2 separate regions of the Homo sapiens genome follow, and region 1 is linked to region 2. Evidence: fine-mapped expression QTL. A gene starts in region 2. The other region holds a variant in brackets. All regions are shown on one strand. Distances are from middle to middle. Region 1 overlaps TOP1MT (DNA topoisomerase I mitochondrial). Region 2 holds the start of RHPN1 (rhophilin Rho GTPase binding protein 1).

What was found.
Region 1: its variant is fine-mapped to the expression of RHPN1 in whole blood (TOPMed, PIP above 0.99).

What each region holds. Positions count from the first base shown.
Region 1 is chr8:143,322,459-143,330,889 of GRCh38, reverse strand. It overlaps TOP1MT (DNA topoisomerase I mitochondrial), which reads left to right. Exons shown (of 14, transcript NM_052963.3): 3 at 1,419-1,540; 4 at 4,546-4,668; 5 at 5,357-5,544; 6 at 6,261-6,405; 7 at 6,748-6,891. Among named protein-coding and RNA genes, the nearest start is that of TOP1MT, 8.2 kb to the left of the region's middle. RefSeq lists enhancers at 7,170-7,831, 7,832-8,431. The variant G/A (reference allele first, on the strand shown) is at 4,955.
Region 2 is chr8:143,364,548-143,373,583 of GRCh38, reverse strand. RHPN1 (rhophilin Rho GTPase binding protein 1) reads right to left here and starts at 4,708. Exons shown (of 15, transcript NM_052924.3): 1 at 4,537-4,708. The coding sequence starts at 4,596. RHPN1-AS1 (RHPN1 antisense RNA 1) reads left to right here and starts at 4,949. Exons shown (of 1, transcript NR_026785.1): 1 at 4,949-6,961. RefSeq lists enhancers at 2,640-3,546, 3,547-4,454, 5,195-5,750 and silencers at 4,242-4,291, 4,492-4,951, 4,962-5,031.

The DNA of each region.
Region 1 (8,431 bases), 42 kb after region 2:
TGCGTGTACACACATGGATCACAGAACGGTCACTTGACCCCAGCTTGTGATTCTCAGCAAGAAGCGGAGCCCGTGGTTGACATGAGCGCTGAGCCACCCTCAGAGGCAGGACCCGGGGGCTCTGGGGCAGCAGGGCCCACACACCCCTCCTGCCCTTGAGCCCTCCTCTCTACCCCAGGGCCCAGGAGCTTTGGCTTGGCTCTTGTGCTGCTGATTTTAGCTGCTTCAGCCTATTTTCTTCATCTCTGCTAGAAGGCATCCTTCTAAGAAAAGCAAACCTCTTCTCCCCCAGGGCAGGCCCCCACGCCATGCTGTGCCCCTCCCACCAGCCCTCCCGTGGGCCCCCTGCCGAGTCACATGCACACCTGAGTTTGCTGAGCTCCTTTGATGCAATGTTTTGTTCAAAGCCTGTTTCTCCAAAGCGGTACTGGAGCTTCCACAGGGACAGAGGTTCTAGCTGTGTCTGTGGGGGCTGCCCACGGGAGGCCATGGGACCTTACTGAGCGTCTCGCGCTGTGCCCCTGGCCTGGTGTAGCGGCTGCCTCGCCTGCCCCACAGCAGCCCTGCAGGACCTCCCTGGCCAGGAGGGACATGGCAGGCGAGGACTGCTTATGCAGGGCCATGGTGGACAGTCCGGGGAGTGGTGGTGTCGCGTGGGGCCCAGTGGGGCCGAGCCTCCACAGAGGGGCAGTGGGAGCTGAGCCCCTCGGGCCTGTGCTGCTGGTCTCTGGGCCTCTCGTCCTCTGTCCTGAGAAGCTAGTTTGGGGAAGGATTGCTGCTGTTTATCAGAAATGCCTTCCTCCTTCTTACCAAATGATTATGCATTTATTTCTCTAAAATTTTCTTATGAAAGCTTTTCAGACGTGCAGTTGAAAGAATTCCTGGTGAACACCCTCGTTCCCACCACGAGCCTCTCACTCTGCTCGCCTGCTCCCAGCTCACCCCCCATCTCTAAACCACACTGATCTTAGAATAAAATGCAGGGAATGGTGGGACAGAGGCCGCAGAGTTGTAAAAGGGTACACCTAGTTATTCAGTTTTCTGCTTTGAAGCCTTAACTTTTATTTTACTTGTGAAATTTTGTGGAAATTGGTGTGTTTTAAAATTGTACATGTTCCATTTTCATGTAATATAAATGTAGTAGCAACGTTAAGTGGTAAAGGAGGAGAAAGCAGTAGCGCCTGAAATCTTCTGCAGCTTTCTCACGACCCGCTCCCAGATCACTGTGGTCGCCACCTCCACGCAGGTTGATTGTCGTGTGTCATGCAGAACATGCTTCTGAACTTACAGAAGAAGGCCTAGCTTCTTGCTCTTGGCATAGTACGCACGAAAGCGTAGTTTAAAGCAATGAGGTCATGTCAGCTGGAGGCCGAGCCTCTGGCCGCTCTCTCATACGATGTGTCTTCCGATGCCTGCAGGAAGGCCTGTGAGATTGAGCGTGGCAGCGGAGGAGGTCGCCACTTTTTATGGGAGGATGTTAGATCATGAATACACAACAAAGGAGGTTTTCCGGAAGAACTTCTTCAATGACTGGCGAAAGGTAGGTACCCTGGGCGGCCGCCACAGCTGTCCTGGACCTGGCTGGCTAGGCGTCTGCGGTTCTGCAGTGCTGCCTCTGAACGCCCCTCGCAAGTTCTCGGTGGCCCCTGTGTGACCACTCACAGGTGCCGTCATGGCTCTTTGCAGCTTCGAGCTCCTGGGCTCAAGCCATCCTCCTGTCTCGGCCTCCTGAGTAGCTGGGACCATAGGCGGTGCCAGTGTGTCCAGCCTAGTGCACCTCAGACCTTTCCCTTCCCAGGCAGGCTGTGGATGTGGAGGCCGATTTGTGGTCCTTACTCCATGGACCGCTGAAAGGACAGGGGTCTGGCATATAAGAAGGAGAGTAGAGGAGGCCGCATGCCATTTCCCAGCCCCCAGGAAGACATGCTTGGCGAGAAGCTCTTTGGAGGGGAGGGTGCTGCCTCAAGGCTTTTTCCTTGCTCATTTTCAAGGTGACTGCCCTTCGCCCATGGCCTGACTGATTTTATGTGTGTGCCGCGGATTCTGTGCCCTCCGGGGTTTCTGTCTGCCCCACACCTGCGAGGCTCGCCCCTGACTGCTTGTCCCGCAGCATCTTCCTGGCTCTGGCCGGGTCGCGTTTCCTCTGTTCCGTGACTCATGCTAGTCCATTTCCCTATTCGTGGGTGTTTGATTAATTCCTGTTTTAGGCCTTTGCATGTGTAAAGCTGCCATGAACATTCCCACGTGGGTGAGGGCACATATGTGTGAGTTGCCTCTGACAGGACTTGGGGTGAAATTGCTGGGTCACGTGTGTCCAGCTTACTAGCAACACCAGGCTGAACTGTCCACACGCCTGCCGCGGGTGCGAGGCACCTTTCTAGTGGGCACAAAATGACACCTCGCCGTGGGTGTGGTTTGCGTTTCCCTAATGACAAGTGATATTAAGCATCTTTTGGTGTACTGACGTGTCATTTCAGTATTTTCTTTCGTGAACTTTTGTCTATTTAAAAAACTGAGTTGCTTGCGTATTCCTCGCTCATTTATCGGAGTTTTAAAAACGCATCCTGGGTGCAGGTTCTTTGCCAGACGCACATGCTGTGAATGTCATCTCCCAGACTTTGCCTTTTCACTTCTCAGTGAGGTCTCCAAACAGAAAACTGTAACTTAGTTATGCCGTTTATCAATCTGTCTTTTATGGTGAGTACTTTTGTGTCCTGTTTTAAGTCCATTATCAGAAATATGATTTGCAAAAATCTTTCATGGTGTTTGTAGTTTCTATTTGCGTTCTCTTAACAATGTCTTTGGAAGGTCAGGAGTTTGGAATACTGATGAGGTCCCACGTTTCATGTTTTGTCACAGGTTTGCTTTTGTTGTTTTGTCTAAGAAATCTGCTGAATTCGGCAGCACAGAGATTTCCTCCTATGTTTTTCCTAGAAGTTTTGGTTTTAGGTTTCCATTGAGGTCAGCTTGGTTTAGGTGGAACTCTGAGTTAATTTTGGTTATAGTGTGGGGTAGAGGCCGAGGCTCGTGTGTTGCATGTGGGTGTCTGACTGCCCCGAGCCAGCTGCTGGAGCCTGTGCTTCCTTGTCCCCTGTGCAGGCTCCGCTTCTGGACCCTCTTCTTTGGCCTGATGCCACCCCTCTGCCTTTCACGACAGCTTTGTGAGGTGGCACCAGCTGCCCGGCATCCTCATTCTCCCTCTGGTCAGCACTTCTTCCAGTCACTAGCAGAGCTAGGAAGGGAGGCAGTGTCACAAAGCAGCAGAACAGGAGTGGGTGGCACATCCGGCGGCCCCGGGAGACACAGGGACGGACCCTGAGCCCGTGGTTGTGGCCGAGCAGGGCTCCATCCTGGCACAGATGGTGTCGTACCTGAGCTCCTCGGAAGAGGCGGATCATCCCCATCCCACAGCGAGACACGTTTGACAGCAGCTCCTGAGGTCTCACAGGCCTAAGTGGCCGAGCCTGGACTGGGACCGTGAGCTGGTGCCCGCAAGCCTGGGCTTTTGTCCATGGGCTGTGCAGAGTTTTTGTTGTGTAGGAAACGAAAGGAGAAACAGTTGCCTGTGATCTGCGGCTCTCCCTCAGGTCAGTGTCTCCTGTTCCCGCGTCCTGGCTTTTCCTGGGCACTAGTTTTCGTGTGAGTGTGATCAGTGTGCCTGTAATGTTTTCCCCACTTAGCATTTTATCCCGCTTAGTCTCCACACGGGTAGATCATCGTCAAACTGTTTTCTGCTGTGCTTTCCAAAATTCACCTTGAAACTGAATCCCCAGCACCACAGGACAGAGGGAGGGCCTTTAGGAGCTGATTGGGCTGTGAGGACTCCACCTTGCTGCAGCCCTTAGGATTAATTTAGGGCCTTAGGGCAGGGCTGGGTGGAATTAGCTGGGCCCCTTCTGTCCTTCTGTCCCCTCCACTGTGTGAGGACAGCCTTCAGGGCATCCTCTCAGAAGCAGGGACTGGGCCCTCCATAGACGTCAAATGCTGGGACCCTGATCCCAGCCTTCCAGCCCCCAGAGCTGTGACTATGATTTACAACTGACCAGTCCCCGGTATTTTGTGGCAGCAGCACGTATGGACTGAGACTTTGCCCTCGCGAATCCCGTCACGTTCACCAGATGAGCTCCCGACCATGTATCCTGCTCTGTCCGGTCATGACGTTTCTGCAGTTGCCCTTAGTGCGGTCGTCATCCGGGTTTTCATACTGGAGAGTTTATTTAGGATGGATCTCAAAGTGGAATTATTGGGTGCAAAGGTTTTAGCCAGTTTTACTACTGACTTGTTGTGAAGTTGCTTTTGGAGAACTGTGCCCTCCGCTGCCCCACCCAACTCCATGCCTGCAATAACAGAACCAGCTCTATCTGTGGGGTCTGCGGGGAGAGGCTCTATTTACGGGGCCGCAGGACCGTGCGCAGGTTCTGCCTATTGCACACACGCCTCCGTCGGACATGGCGAGAGCGCGTTTCTGTCCGTCAGACATGGCGAGAGCGCTCTGCATGTCTGTCCTTCAGACATGGTGAGAGCGCGTGTCTGTGGTTTTTGCAGGAAATGGCGGTGGAAGAGAGGGAAGTCATCAAGAGCCTGGACAAGTGTGACTTCACGGAGATCCACAGATACTTTGTGGACAAGGCCGCAGCCCGGAAAGTCCTGAGCAGGGAGGAGAAGCAGGTTGGGCTGCCTCGAGCGTTGTGTGACCTGAAGTGGCCCCTGGGAACGAGAGGCCGGCCTGGCCCAAAGACTGAGAAAGGCCTGTGGCCTTAGAGAAGCCCCTTCTCACAAAGCTGCTCTTTTCTCGTCAGCCTTAGCGCCCCTGCATGTGCTTAAGTGTCGTTCCGCTTCCCCAGAGCACATTTGAGAGTAAACCCGGTTTGAAATGGATAATTTACCATCATTGATCAAGGGTGGGTTCCCAGACGGGCCGTGGGCTGAGGGCGGGGCTTGTGCAGGCCAGTCG[G/A]CTTCTTGCTGTTCTGTGCCATGCGTCTCCCTACATCTAACAGGAACCTGCCGTGCTGTGATCTCCATGTGGCCTTCTCAGGGATTCCCTTAGCCCTCCTCCTCCATGGCGGGCAGCCACGCTCCCTCCACCTGGCTTTACTGCTTAGGCCTAAAACAGCCGAAGTCTGTGCAGGGGCCGGGGAGTCCAGGCCATGGGGTGGTTAGGCCATGGCTCTCGGTGCCCCCTGCAAGCCCACCTGCACTGTCCCCTGCCCCTGCAACCTCCATGGATTGTGAAGGGCTTTGAGGGTCCAGCTGAGTTAGCCAGACAGAGCAGGGTGGTCCCGGGTTAGCAACAACGGACTGAGGCCTGTTCTCTTCTCTTCACTGCTAATGTCCACTGACTGTTTTATTAACTCAGAAGCTAAAAGAAGAGGCAGAAAAACTTCAGCAAGAGTTCGGCTACTGTATTTTAGATGGTCACCAAGAAAAAATAGGCAACTTCAAGATTGAGCCGCCTGGCTTGTTCCGTGGCCGTGGCGACCATCCCAAGATGGGGATGCTGAAGAGAAGGATCACGCCAGAGGATGTGGTTATCAACTGCAGCAGGTGCGTGGCCGGGCGGGCAGCAGGCGGGCACTGGACCCCCGCCACCCGGGTGAGGCTGGCTTTTCTTCACCTCCTGGGAGAGGGAGGCACACCGAGAAACATGTGGTTGGTGACCCCCACACCATTCCTGTGGAGCTCAGCCTGTAGGCGTGGCCGGGCAAGGGCGGCCTTCCCAGGGTGCTTCCCACGGGGTCGGAAGTCCTCGCCTTGCTATGGCTGAGACTTTCTCCCGCCAAGGACACCTCCATGTGGTTTTCATATCCCACACCATCTGGATGGCCCAGTAGCATTAGGTGTTTTGAACTTATTGGAGGGACATTCCAAGTGGTGGAGAGGGGACTGCTGGGCCACATGTTGTACTGTGTGACCACAGGGTGGAGTAGGGACCCTGCCTGCAGGACCCCCAGTGGCCAGGCTGTGTGGGGCAGGGCACTCGTCGTCCCAGTTGGTGCTGAGAGGTCTGTGCAGAGCGGTGCCTTGCTTGGGTGGCCGCCCAGCCTCCTGGTGCACTGTGGCCTTCCTGTGTGTGCAGAGGGTAGATTGAGTGGCTGCTTTTGTCTGAGCTGCCAGGCAGGCCACCTCTGATGCCAGACTCGGTCAGGAGCCATGCCACCACCATAGCCACCACGTGGGACGGTTGACCAGAGCAGCTCCTTTTGCTTGCATTCCAGAGAATAAGGTCTCCAAGTTATGTTTGGGTCGTTGTTCTGCTGCAGGGACTCGAAGATCCCCGAGCCGCCGGCGGGGCACCAGTGGAAGGAGGTGCGCTCCGATAACACCGTCACGTGGCTGGCAGCTTGGACCGAGAGCGTTCAGAACTCCATCAAGTACATCATGCTGAACCCTTGCTCGAAGCTGAAGGTGAGCGCAGGGCTTGGCAGGGTGTTTCCTCCCCAGGAGGTCCCCCTGAGGACGCCGGCAGGGAGGTGTGTAAGCCGGGCACCGGCAGAGGCTTCTGAGATGGGCTGGGAGTCGGCCAGCCCGTGCTGAGGTCATGCTGTGCCAGCAGGCACAAGCCCCAAAGCCAGGAGTGGGCATGGGTGCTCACTGCCGGCATCACCCAGCTAGATTTGCTGCCCCAGCCCCTGACCACGGCACCACTGAGTGGAGAAGCACGAGGTTTGGGGGAGGGAGAGTTGACAGCCTCCTCCGTTATTTAACAGGAATGTGAATGTTTTCTTTCCTGTTATTTTCTTCGTTTAGGGGGAGACAGCTTGGCAGAAGTTTGAAACAGCTCGACGCCTGCGGGGATTTGTGGACGAGATCCGCTCCCAGTACCGGGCTGACTGGAAGTCTCGGGAAATGAAGACGAGACAGCGGGCGGTGGCCCTGTATTTCATCGATAAGGTATGCGGCCTTCTCGCTTCCTGGCGGCTCTTCATCCTGGTTCTCCTGGCGAGGACTCCCAGTTGGATGGTGCAGTGTGGCGACGTGGGCCTGTGTGTGGGGTGGAACCTCATTCTGATGGGGGGGGTGTGTGCATGTGCACACGTGTGTGGGTGTGAACATGTGTGTAGGGTGTGCATGTGCATTGTGTGGTGTGTGTGCACTTGTGCGTGTGGTGTGCCTGTGTGTGGCATGTCTGTGTGGGGCGTGCATGTGTGTGGCGTGCATGTGTGTGTGGCGTGCATGTGTGTGGTGTGCCTGTGTGTGTGGCGTGCATGTGTGTGGCGTGCGTGTGTGGTGAGCATGTGTGTGGCGTGCGTGTGGCGTGCGTGTGTGGCGTGCCTGTGTGTGTGGCGTGCGTGTGTGTGTGGCGTGCCTGTGTGTGTGGCGTGCATGTGTGTGGCGTGCGTGTGTGGTGAGCATGTGTGTGGCGTGCATGTGTGTGTGGCGTGCCTGTGTGGCGTGCATGTGTGTGGCGTGCGTGTGTGGTGAGCATGTGTGTGGCGTGCGTGTGGCGTGCGTGTGTGGCGTGCCTGTGTGTGTGGCGTGCGTGTGTGGCGTGCCTGTGTGTGTGGCATGCATCTGTGTGGCGTGCCTGTGGGTGTGGCGTGCATGTGTGTGGCGTGCATGTGTGTGGCGTGCGTGTGGTGAGCATGTGTGTGGCGTGCGTGTGTGGCGTGCGTGTGTGGCGTGCATGTGTGTGGCGTGCCTGTGTGTGTGGCGTGCCTGTGTGTGGCGTGCCTGTGTGGCGTGCCTGTGTGTGGCATGCGTGTGTGGCGTGCCTGTGTGTGTGGCGTGCCTGTGTGGCGTGCCTGTGTGTGGTGTGCCTGTGTGTGTGGCGTGCATGTGTGGCGTGCGTGTTTGGCATGCCTGTGTGTGGCGTGCGTGTGTGGTGTGCCTGTGTGTGGCGTGCCTGTGTGGCGTGCATGTGTGTGTGTGCATGTGTGTGGCGTGCCTGTGTGTGGCGTGCGTGTGTGGCGTGCGTGCGTGTGTGGCGTGCGTGTGTGGCGTGTGTGGCGTGCCTGTGTGTGGCGTGCGTGTGTGGCGTGCGTGTGTGGCGTGCGTGTGGCGTGCGTGTGTTGCGTGCGTGTGGCGTGCGTGTGTGTTGCGTGCGTGTGTGGTGTGCGTGTGTGGCGTGCCTGTGTGTGGCATGCATGTGTGTGTGCATGTGTGTGGCGTGCCTGTGTGTGGCGTGCGTGTGTGGCGTGCGTGCGTGTGTGGCGTGTGTGGCGTGCCTGTGTGTGGCGTGCGTGTGGCGTGCGTGTGGCGTGCGTGTGTGGCGTGCGTGTGTGGCGTGCGTGTGTGGTGTGCGTGTGGCGTGTGTGTGTGACGTGCCTGTGTGGCATGCATGTGTGTGGCCTGCATGTGTGTGGCGTGCATGTGTGTGGCGTGTCTGTGTGTGGCGTGCGTGTGTGTGGCGTGCATCTTTGGCGTGCCTGTTGTGTGGCGTGCCTGTGTGTGTGGCGTGCGTGTGGCGTGCCTGTGTGGCGTGCCTGTGTGG
Region 2 (9,036 bases):
CCCCTGGAACCCACGCCATCCCCCAAATCCCCGCCCCGTCCCCTGGAACCCACACCATCCCCCAAGCCCCCGCCCCGTCCCCTGGAACCCGCGCCATCCCCAAACCCCCACACCGTCCCCTGGAACCCGCGCCATCCCCAAACCCCCACACCGTCCCCTGGAACCCACGCCATCCCCAAACCCCCACACCGTCCCCTGGAACCCACACCATCCCCCAAGCCCCCGCCCCGTCCCCTGGAACCCGCGCCATCCCCAAACCCCCACACCGTCCCCTGGAACCCACGCCATCCCCAAACCCCCACACCATCCCCTGGAACCCGCGCCATCCCCAAACCCCCACACCGTCCCCTGGAACCCACACCATCCCCCAAGCCCCCGCACCATCCCCTGGAACCCACGCCATCCCCCAAGCCCCTGCACCATCCCCTGGAACCCACGCCATCCCCAAACCCCCACACCGTCCCCTGGAACCCACACCATCCCCCAAGCCCCCGCACCGTCCCCTGGAACCCACGCCATCCCCAAACCCCCGCACCGTCCCCTGGAACCCACGCCATCCCCAAACCCCCACACCATCCCCTGGAACCCGCGCCATCCCCAAACCCCCACACCGTCCCCTGGAACCCGCGCCATCCCCAAACCCCCACACCGTCCCCTGGAACCCACACCATCCCCCAAGCCCCTGCACCATCCCCTGGAACCCACGCCATCCCCCAAACCCCCGCATTGTCCCCCAGACACCTGTGCCATCCCCCAAACCCCTGCGCCATCTGCTGGACACCCACGCCATCCCCCAGACACCTGTACCATCCCCCAAACCCCTGTACTGTCTGCTGGACACCCGCACCATCCCCTGGACACCCAGGCCGGCAGCCTCCTGCTGAGTGCTGGGGTGAGGGAGCCTGACGGAGGTCCCTGAACTGAAGATGAGTTGGCGCTTAGGGGCCGGAGGGAGGGACACAGGCGGCCGGAGGGATGGACACAGGCAGCTGGAGGGAGGGACACAGGCAGCCGGAAGGAGGGTGTGCCGGCCCAGGACCCTGGCCTCCCCCAGCCCAGCCCTGCCCCCGTGGACACCACCCAGCAGCGGACGGGCCGATGTGCACTTGGGAACCCTCACCCTGCTCCCGTTTCTCACTCCCGCCTCCTCCAGAAAAGAAATTCCCTCCAGAGCTGCTTCAGGGACTCGGGCTGGAGAGGCCCACAGGTGGGAGAGGGGCATGGGCGCCTCAGATCTGAGAAGCTCCCTGAACCTGAGGCCCGCCCACCCCCGCCTCCCATCCCTACCTTTCCCACCGGCGCTACCACCTCGAGGGCCTCTGCCCAGTACCTAGGAGACCCCCGTGCCACCCACCGCAGCTACACCCCCTCCCCGCAAAGGCCCCGCTGCAAGGCTCCAGCAGCTTTAAGGGCTCTGGCTGTGCGACGGGCATCAGACACCCAGCCAGGTCCCTGCTCCCCTCCTGGCCCCAGGAGAGCTGCGGGGAGCCTGGCCCCTTGGAGCCCCACAGGCACCTGCTGTGGGCCTGGTCCATTCCTCGGCCTCCCTACCCGCAGTGCTCCCTGCAGGCCAAGTGACTTCCCGGCCTACAGGCGGAGGAGCAGACCCGAGCCGGACCTTTGAGGCTGGGTAGACCTTGGAGGTGGGCGGCCCATGCCCCACTTTCCACACTGGGTTGAAGGTTGAGCCCAGTGGAAGGGGCATAGACACAGGCGTTCAGGCCCCTACTCCTGCTACAACCTCCCCACCCTCTGGAGACAAAGGTGACCTGGAGCTCCCCACCCCCACGTCCACGGTGCCCTGACACCCCACTGTGGCCATTTCCGCCTTGCATTAGGAAAGGACAGAGAGGCTGTGGTCTGTGGGGGTCCCGAGAGGCAGCCACACATGAAGGGCCTGGCCATGCCTCGATGGAGAGGGACGAAGAACAGAGAAACAGCCCCCCAACCCTGACACTGGGGCTCCTCTGCCCAGGAGGAAACAGTGTGGCCCTGGCCAGAGTGGGGCTGACCTGGGGACGGGCAAAAGGCAGAGATAGTTATCCCAGCCCAGGTCTGGGAACAGCAAAACATCAGAGCAGGGCCAGACCTCCACTCTCCCCCAGGATCCCCTGGCCCTGGGCCAGGCAGTCCCCAGGGAGAGGTCACCCACCTGGAGCAAACCAGCTTTTTCCCTTCAGAGCCCTGGCCCTGGGCACCCTGTATGCTGACAGCCACCCATCTCAGGTACCCCTCTCCTCTGCCCCCACTGAAGTCTCACCTGAATGCAAGAACTGGAAGCCCCAGGAGGGTGGAAGCCCAGCACCCACCTGACCCACCATCTCTGCCCCCCACTGATGAGGGAACAGAATTCAAAGGGCATTGCTGCACAGGTGTCTCCTGGGACACAGGGCTATAAGCAGCACGCACGCCAGAGGAATCATAGACTGGCCACTCACGGCAGGGACTCCCACTCTCTCTGATGCTCCCTGGGGTACCCAGGCACTGGTGCTTCCTGAGCACCCCTCTTCCTGGAGCCCAATCTACCTGGGCAGGGGCCTGGGAACCTGTAACCAGCACCCAGAGGGTGCTCCTGTCCAGCCAGGCTGGGGAACCTCAGGCTGACCCACTCGGCATGCTGGAGACCAGGTGAGGGGGGCACAGCCACCCTGCCCACCTGCTGCTCCAACGCTCTCCCTCTGCAGCCTGCTCCCCCTTCTCCCACTGGCCTCCCCAGGAAACCACAGAACCTTCTGCATACAGCCAGGCTGTATTCCTTGTGGTCCTCCCCCGGGAGCCCCTGCAGCCCCTGCGGGAGGGACGGCAGCTGGGTTGGCCACCCTGGGCCGTGCCAGGCTTCTCCCCTTCCCAGCTTGGCAGCCTTGGCCACTTACTCACCCTGTTCATCAGACGGGCTGAGGCCCAGGGCTTGGGAGGCACCAATGGCAGGACTCCAGCTGTAGCACTGGCCCTGGCACCAGGTAAGCGCTTGCTGGAAGCCTGCTCTCATCACGCCTGGGGCAAATACAAGTCACCCAGACCTGTCCACAGGGCCTCAGGCCCAGGTGTGGCCTCTAAGTGGATGAACGACCGACCCCTGACCCACTGAACTCTGAGCTTTAGGGCCAGTTTGGGGGCCAGCCTGATGGGGGTGGAACAGGCCTCACTCTAGCCCGGCAGCAGGCATCGGGGAAGACTTTCCAGATGGCAGGACAGCCTGAGTGGTGCGCGTGTGACACAGGGCCTGCCTCCGCCCCACTGCCACCTCCCACGGGCCCCTCCCCAGTACCCTGACTGTGGGGTCATTTCTGGACGCTGTGAGAGACACGGCAGCCTGGAAACAGCTTCTCCCCAACTTTCCAAGGTGGCAGCCCAGGGAGGGCCAGGACAGGGAGCCCAGGCACAGCCCCCAGCCTGAAAAGCGTCACCTCCGGAGCCCTCTGGGACATCTTGTTTGTACAGCCTCCCAAACATTCCACCCAAAACAACATGTGCCGTCCCAGGCCACCTGCAGGCATGGCCGCCCTGACAGAGCAAGTTCATAGGGGGCAGGCACAGGCTGCCTCTTTCCCTCCAGTGCCCAGGAGGTGCTGCAGCCTCTGGCACGCCTCGGGGTGGGCAAGAAGGGCGTCCTTGAGGGCTACGGTCAGCATCACCAGCCCAGTGACCTGAAGCCAAACCCTGGCTGATAGCACCGCCTCCTCCTCTAGGAGACCTAACCCCAAACACCAAAGCCGAGTAGAACCAGCCCAGGGACAACACAGTCTGACGTCCCAGAGGGGAGGAGGGCCGCGCGCTATCAAAGGCTCACCCGGGGCGAGGAGCAGGAGCAGCCCGCGGCTGAAAGCCCGTGGCGGGCGTGGGCGCCCAGGGCCTGGCAGGAGGACTGGGGCAGCCTCGAGCTGGTCCGCAGGGAACAAGCAGGCTCTGGGCTGCAGAGCAAGGCCCACAGACGTCCCCTCCTTCCCAGGCACAGACTCAGCAGGTCTCCACAGCCCTGCCCACCCCTCCCACTTGCCCAGTCAGCACCCCGGGTTAGGGACTTCAGAAGGGAAGGAGGTTTGGGAAGTGAGAAGAGGCCAGCCGGGAAGACCTCTCTCGGTTTCCCATACCCAGGAGGCTTCGCTGCCCGCTGCTACCAGTGCACCCAATGGGCATGCAGTTCCTGAGCGGATGCAGAGGGAGGACCGAACTAGGGAAGGAGGCTGTACAGGTGCCGGAAAGGAACACGATGGCGGGTGTGGGGAGGGCGCTCACAGAGCCCAGCCCCACATCCGCCCAGAAGGGGGACACGAGGAGGGCGTCCCCCCAACCCGCTTCAGCGGTGAGGATGATCCAGACTTTGGCTGTCCGCATTTCCCGGCTCACATGAGTGGCCTGGAAGCACCTCCACCGAGCTCAGAGGAGGAGGGACGCAGGCTCTGGCCTCAGTTTCCCTGCCTGCGTCCGGGCCGAATGAGACGTAGGAGGGGGGCGCCCGGAACGCGCCTCGAGGGGGGGCAGGAAAAGGCCGGGATTCCGGGCCCCTCCTCCCGCCGCCGCGCCAGTTCTGCGCACCTGCAGCCGCGGGCTCTCCTCGCCGGCGCCCGCGCCGTCCGGCCTCTCCTCCAGGATCATCGCCGCACCCGCTGCGCTGGGGGTCCCTCGGGGTCAGCCAGCCCGCCGCTCGCGCAGCGCTCCGCAGCCGGGCTAGGGCCGCCCGCACCACCTGGGCCGCGGGCTCCTGAGTGCCCGCGCCGGTCCCCGACTGTCCCTCCTGAGTGGGGGCGGCCCGCGGCGCGGCTGGGCGGGGCACGGGTCTGGCGTGCGAAGCTGGCCATTGCCCAATAGGCGGCAATGCCGCTTCGACGGACAGCTATATCAGCCAACCAGAGTTCCAGGAAGGCGGGCTCTGGACGGCCAGCTCCGCCCGCCCGCGGGACGGTAACCCCTGGCAACCGCGGCCGGAACGCCCGCGGCTGGCTGGCAGGTTGTACTGCGCATGCGCCGCGGCGGCCGCTGAGCGTGCGGGAGAAGTTCGGGAAACGGAGAAAAAAACTATACGGAACGTCCCAAGCTGAGAGTCAGGGCGGACCTGGACTCGGCGCGCCTAGCTCCTCGGCTCCCTTTGCGGGGACTCCAGGAGTCTGCCCGCTCGCGCCGTTTCGTCCTGTCACCCCGGCAACGGGACCCTCTAAGAGGCTTGTTCCAAAAATGTTCACAATGGGGTTTTTAAAAACGGTTTTGTTAGGGACAAGTGCTTGTGTGAGTCCTCCGACAATGCCTGCTTTCTTCTCTCTGCCCGCGGAGCGGAGGCTCCAGGCCTGGCCCCAGTCCGAGGCGCCTCTGTCGGTGTCGTCCTGCTTCCAAAACCGGCCTCCAGAACCCGCCTCCTTCCAGAACCTCCGTCCAGAACCCGCCTCCCTCCAGAACCTCCGTACAGAACCCACATCCTTCTAGCACCTGCCTCTGGAACCCACGTGCTTTCAGAACTACCTGTTTGTAGAACTTGTTTCCAGAACGAACCTGCTTTCCGAATCTCTTTACTTCCAGAGCTTGTTTCCTGGACTGACCTATTTTCAGAACCTACTTTCAAAACCAGCTTGCCTCCAGGACCACCTGCTTGGAGAACTGGCCTGCAGCCCCAGGACTGGACGACCTGAGACTGCACAGCTCCCTGCGGGGCTCACCCGGCTGTGTGTGTCCTTCCGGGCCTTCCATACTTCCCTAGGTGTCTGGTGACTCCGGAGCCCGCTCGGATTTCGTGTGGGTCTCGCCTCAGCTCAGAACACACCCTTTGAAGAGCAGGAAGGCCAGGGCACAGGCGGTAACCACGGCTCCTGGTCATCAAGTTCCTCTGAAGCCCAGGTCTTGTCCACGTTCACTGCCCCACCACAGGCCCAGCGGAGCCTTGGAGCTGAGCCCTGGGATCATTCTGGTGCCTGTGCTCCCGGCTCCGCAACAAGCACACAGGAGCCTGTCATCCCCAGATCTAAATCCTGAAGGCTAAGCTCCGTGGTCTGCCGCAGCCATCTGCAGCAGGCCCCTCCCAGCAACAGCCTTCTCATAAGGCCCCTGCCAGCCACGCGAAACCTCCTGGCTAGGGCCTGTCTTCCACTCCTGGCCTTTTGAGACAGGGCCTCACTCTGTTCCCCAGGCCGGAGTGCAGTGGTACGATCACAGCTCACTGCAGCCTCCACCTCCTGGGCTCATGTGATCCTCCCACCTCAGCCTCCTGAATAGCTGGGACTACAGGCTTGCACCACCACACCCGGCTAATTTTTGTATATTTTGTAGAGACAGGGTTTCGCCACATTGCCCAGGCCCAGGCTGGTCTCAAACTTCTGGGCTCAAGCAATTCATCTGCCTCAACCTCCCAAAAGTGCTGGATTACAGGGATGAGCCACCATACCCGGCTTTTTTTTTTCTTTCTCCTGGCCTTTTGGGGCCCTTGAAGTGTCTGCTCCCTGGGAGCCCTTCAGCTTGTCGTCCACTTGGTGGGTTCCCACCCGTCCTTCTCACTTCTGCCTGAATCACACAGGCTACATGAGACCTTCACCCACCCCCTTCGCCAGCAGCTCTGTGGTTCAAGTTTCCTCAAGGTTAGGGGCTCCTGGCCATCTTACCTGTGGGCCTGAGCATGGGCCGATGCTTCCAAAGTTCACACTGGGTGCACTTGTGTGGGGACTTCCATGTGAGTCATCTCCTTGCAGGCTGCCAAGGTCCTGTACAGCAGAGACCCAAACCCTCTTAGCAGTCTTCAGAGTCAGCTATGTGTACAGGAGGCATTACCATATCAGTGACTGTCAGCAAGCATGTGTGACTGAAATGGTATCCAGTTCTTACGTATTTGTTTTGCAGGCTTCTTGGTTCAGCAGACAGAGGCCATTGGGAAGTTAAGAGAGGCTCTCAAACTTTGAGGGTCATAAGACTTCCCCTCCCTGCAGGGTGCTGTTTCCTGAAGGAAAATATTCAATTACTATTTTCTTTATTTATTTATTGAGATGGAGTCTTGCTCTTGTCGCCCAGGCTGGAGTGTGTGCGTGTGCGTGTGTGCGTGTGCGTGTGTGTGCGTGCATATGTGCGTGTGTGCGTGTGTGTGTGTGTGTGTGTGTGTTGGAGGGGGGTGGTGCTGCCTTTTTCTTTGCATGCTTCTGTGTTACTGGATTTGGCACAGCAAGAATGTATCACTGCACTCAAAAAATTTAGAGTTTCCTTTTTGTTTTTTTAAATTATTTTAGATTTGGAGGTACATGTGTGGGTTTGTTACATGTGTATTGTGCACTTCTGAAGTTTAAAAATTTAGGGGGAAAAATGAAAGGATGGGAGGTGAGAAAGTAGAGGAGAATTTTGGTGTGACAGGCAGGGAACTGGACAGCGGCGGGAGGGGCACGGCAGTGAGCGCCGGGACCTTTTGCAGATGAGGTGATAATTGCTGATGGGGCTGCTTTATGCTCGTTTTCTCTTTTGTAATTTATAAAGAAAAAAAAATTGAGACAGGGTTTCGCCCTGTTGCCCAGGCTGGTCTTGAACTTCTGAGCTCCAGTGATCTGCCTGCCTTGGCCTCCCAAAGTGTTGGGATTATAGGTGTGAGCCACTGTGACTGGCCTTTTTTTTTTTTTTTGAGACAGGGTGGCTCTCTGTCGCCCAGGCTGGAGTGCAGTGGTGTGATCACAGCTCACTTCACTGCAGCCTCAACCTCCTAGGCTCAGGCAATCCTCCCACCTCGGTCTCCCAAGTAGCAGGGACCGCTTGCATGCGCCACCACATCCAGATAACTTTTGTATTTTTTGTAGAGATGGGGTCTCGCTATGTTGCCCAGGCTTGTCTCAAACTCTGGGCTCAAGCAATTGGCCCACCTTGGCCTCCCAAAGTGCTGGGATTACAGGTGTGAGCCGCTGTGCCTGGCCTGCTTTATGCTTTTATATGGACCAGTACTTTGCAAGTGTGAGCCTGGCAGACTCTTGCTGCAACCAGGAACATGCAGATTTTCCAGATGGGCAGGAACCTGGGCTCCTTTCTGAGCCTCCACATGTCCTGGGTGAAGACCTCAAGGTCTGGAGAGACTGACTGACTCACCCAAGGCCCAATGGCTGTGAGCGGGAAGCCAGGACTCCTCACAGCGCCAGCTTCTTCCATGCATGCCAGCCCATCTGCAGAGCCCGGTCAAGCTCAGGGGAACGCCACCACTGAACCAGAGAGGCAGCCAGGAGGAGGGGGTCTAGATAGAGAAATGTGGAAAAAGCAGCTGATTCCAGAAATTTCCTGCTTGGCCTGGATTAGGCCATGCTGGGGACTGGCTGCCCCTTGCCCAGTGGGTGCTGGGGCATTCAGGCTTGGGGTCTTTTAGGTCAGCCCTAAAAGTTGATGATTTGATGCTGATCGCTGGTACTTACTTCAGCTTTCCTTCTGGTTGGAAGCCTTAATTAGTGGAGGTTGCTGACACTGTTTATGCGCATCGGTATTTTTTTAGAATGTGGAGTGGAAGAGGTGGGCTTTGGGGGACTGGCTAAACCCCAAGAATTTAACTGGCCGTGTATTTTGGCCACTGTTGCGCCTGTTAAGATCTTGGAGTGTGGGTTTGCACCTGTATTTAGAGGTGCACAAACCCACACAAATTCAAGGATAAATAACTGCAAGGCCCGAAGAGAACACGCTCTCCCGCTGCACGCAGGCTGCTCAACTGTGATGAATGGAGTAACAGGTACCACAGGGCGAGCAGGACGCCTTCATCAATGGTGGTAATAGCCACCAATGCATCATCTGTGGAGGCAACAGGAGGGACGGCTGGGGCAGAATCAACAGAACGTGAAAATGAATTGTTTGTAAATACAATCAACAGTGTTATGTTCGTGAGAAAGCCATTCATCATTCAGAAACCACCTTTAGTAAAAGATGCACCTGGCTTCCCGGTGAGACGGGGCCATCAATCCCTCCCCAGTCACAGGGTCAGCTCGGGGCTGCCTAAACCCCCAGAGAACAGACACACATATTTATTCTTATTTGAAAATAAGAGTTGTTAAAAAAAAAAAAGAGCCACTGAGAACATTAGCTTGCCGGGAGCATGGTAGAAGGAGC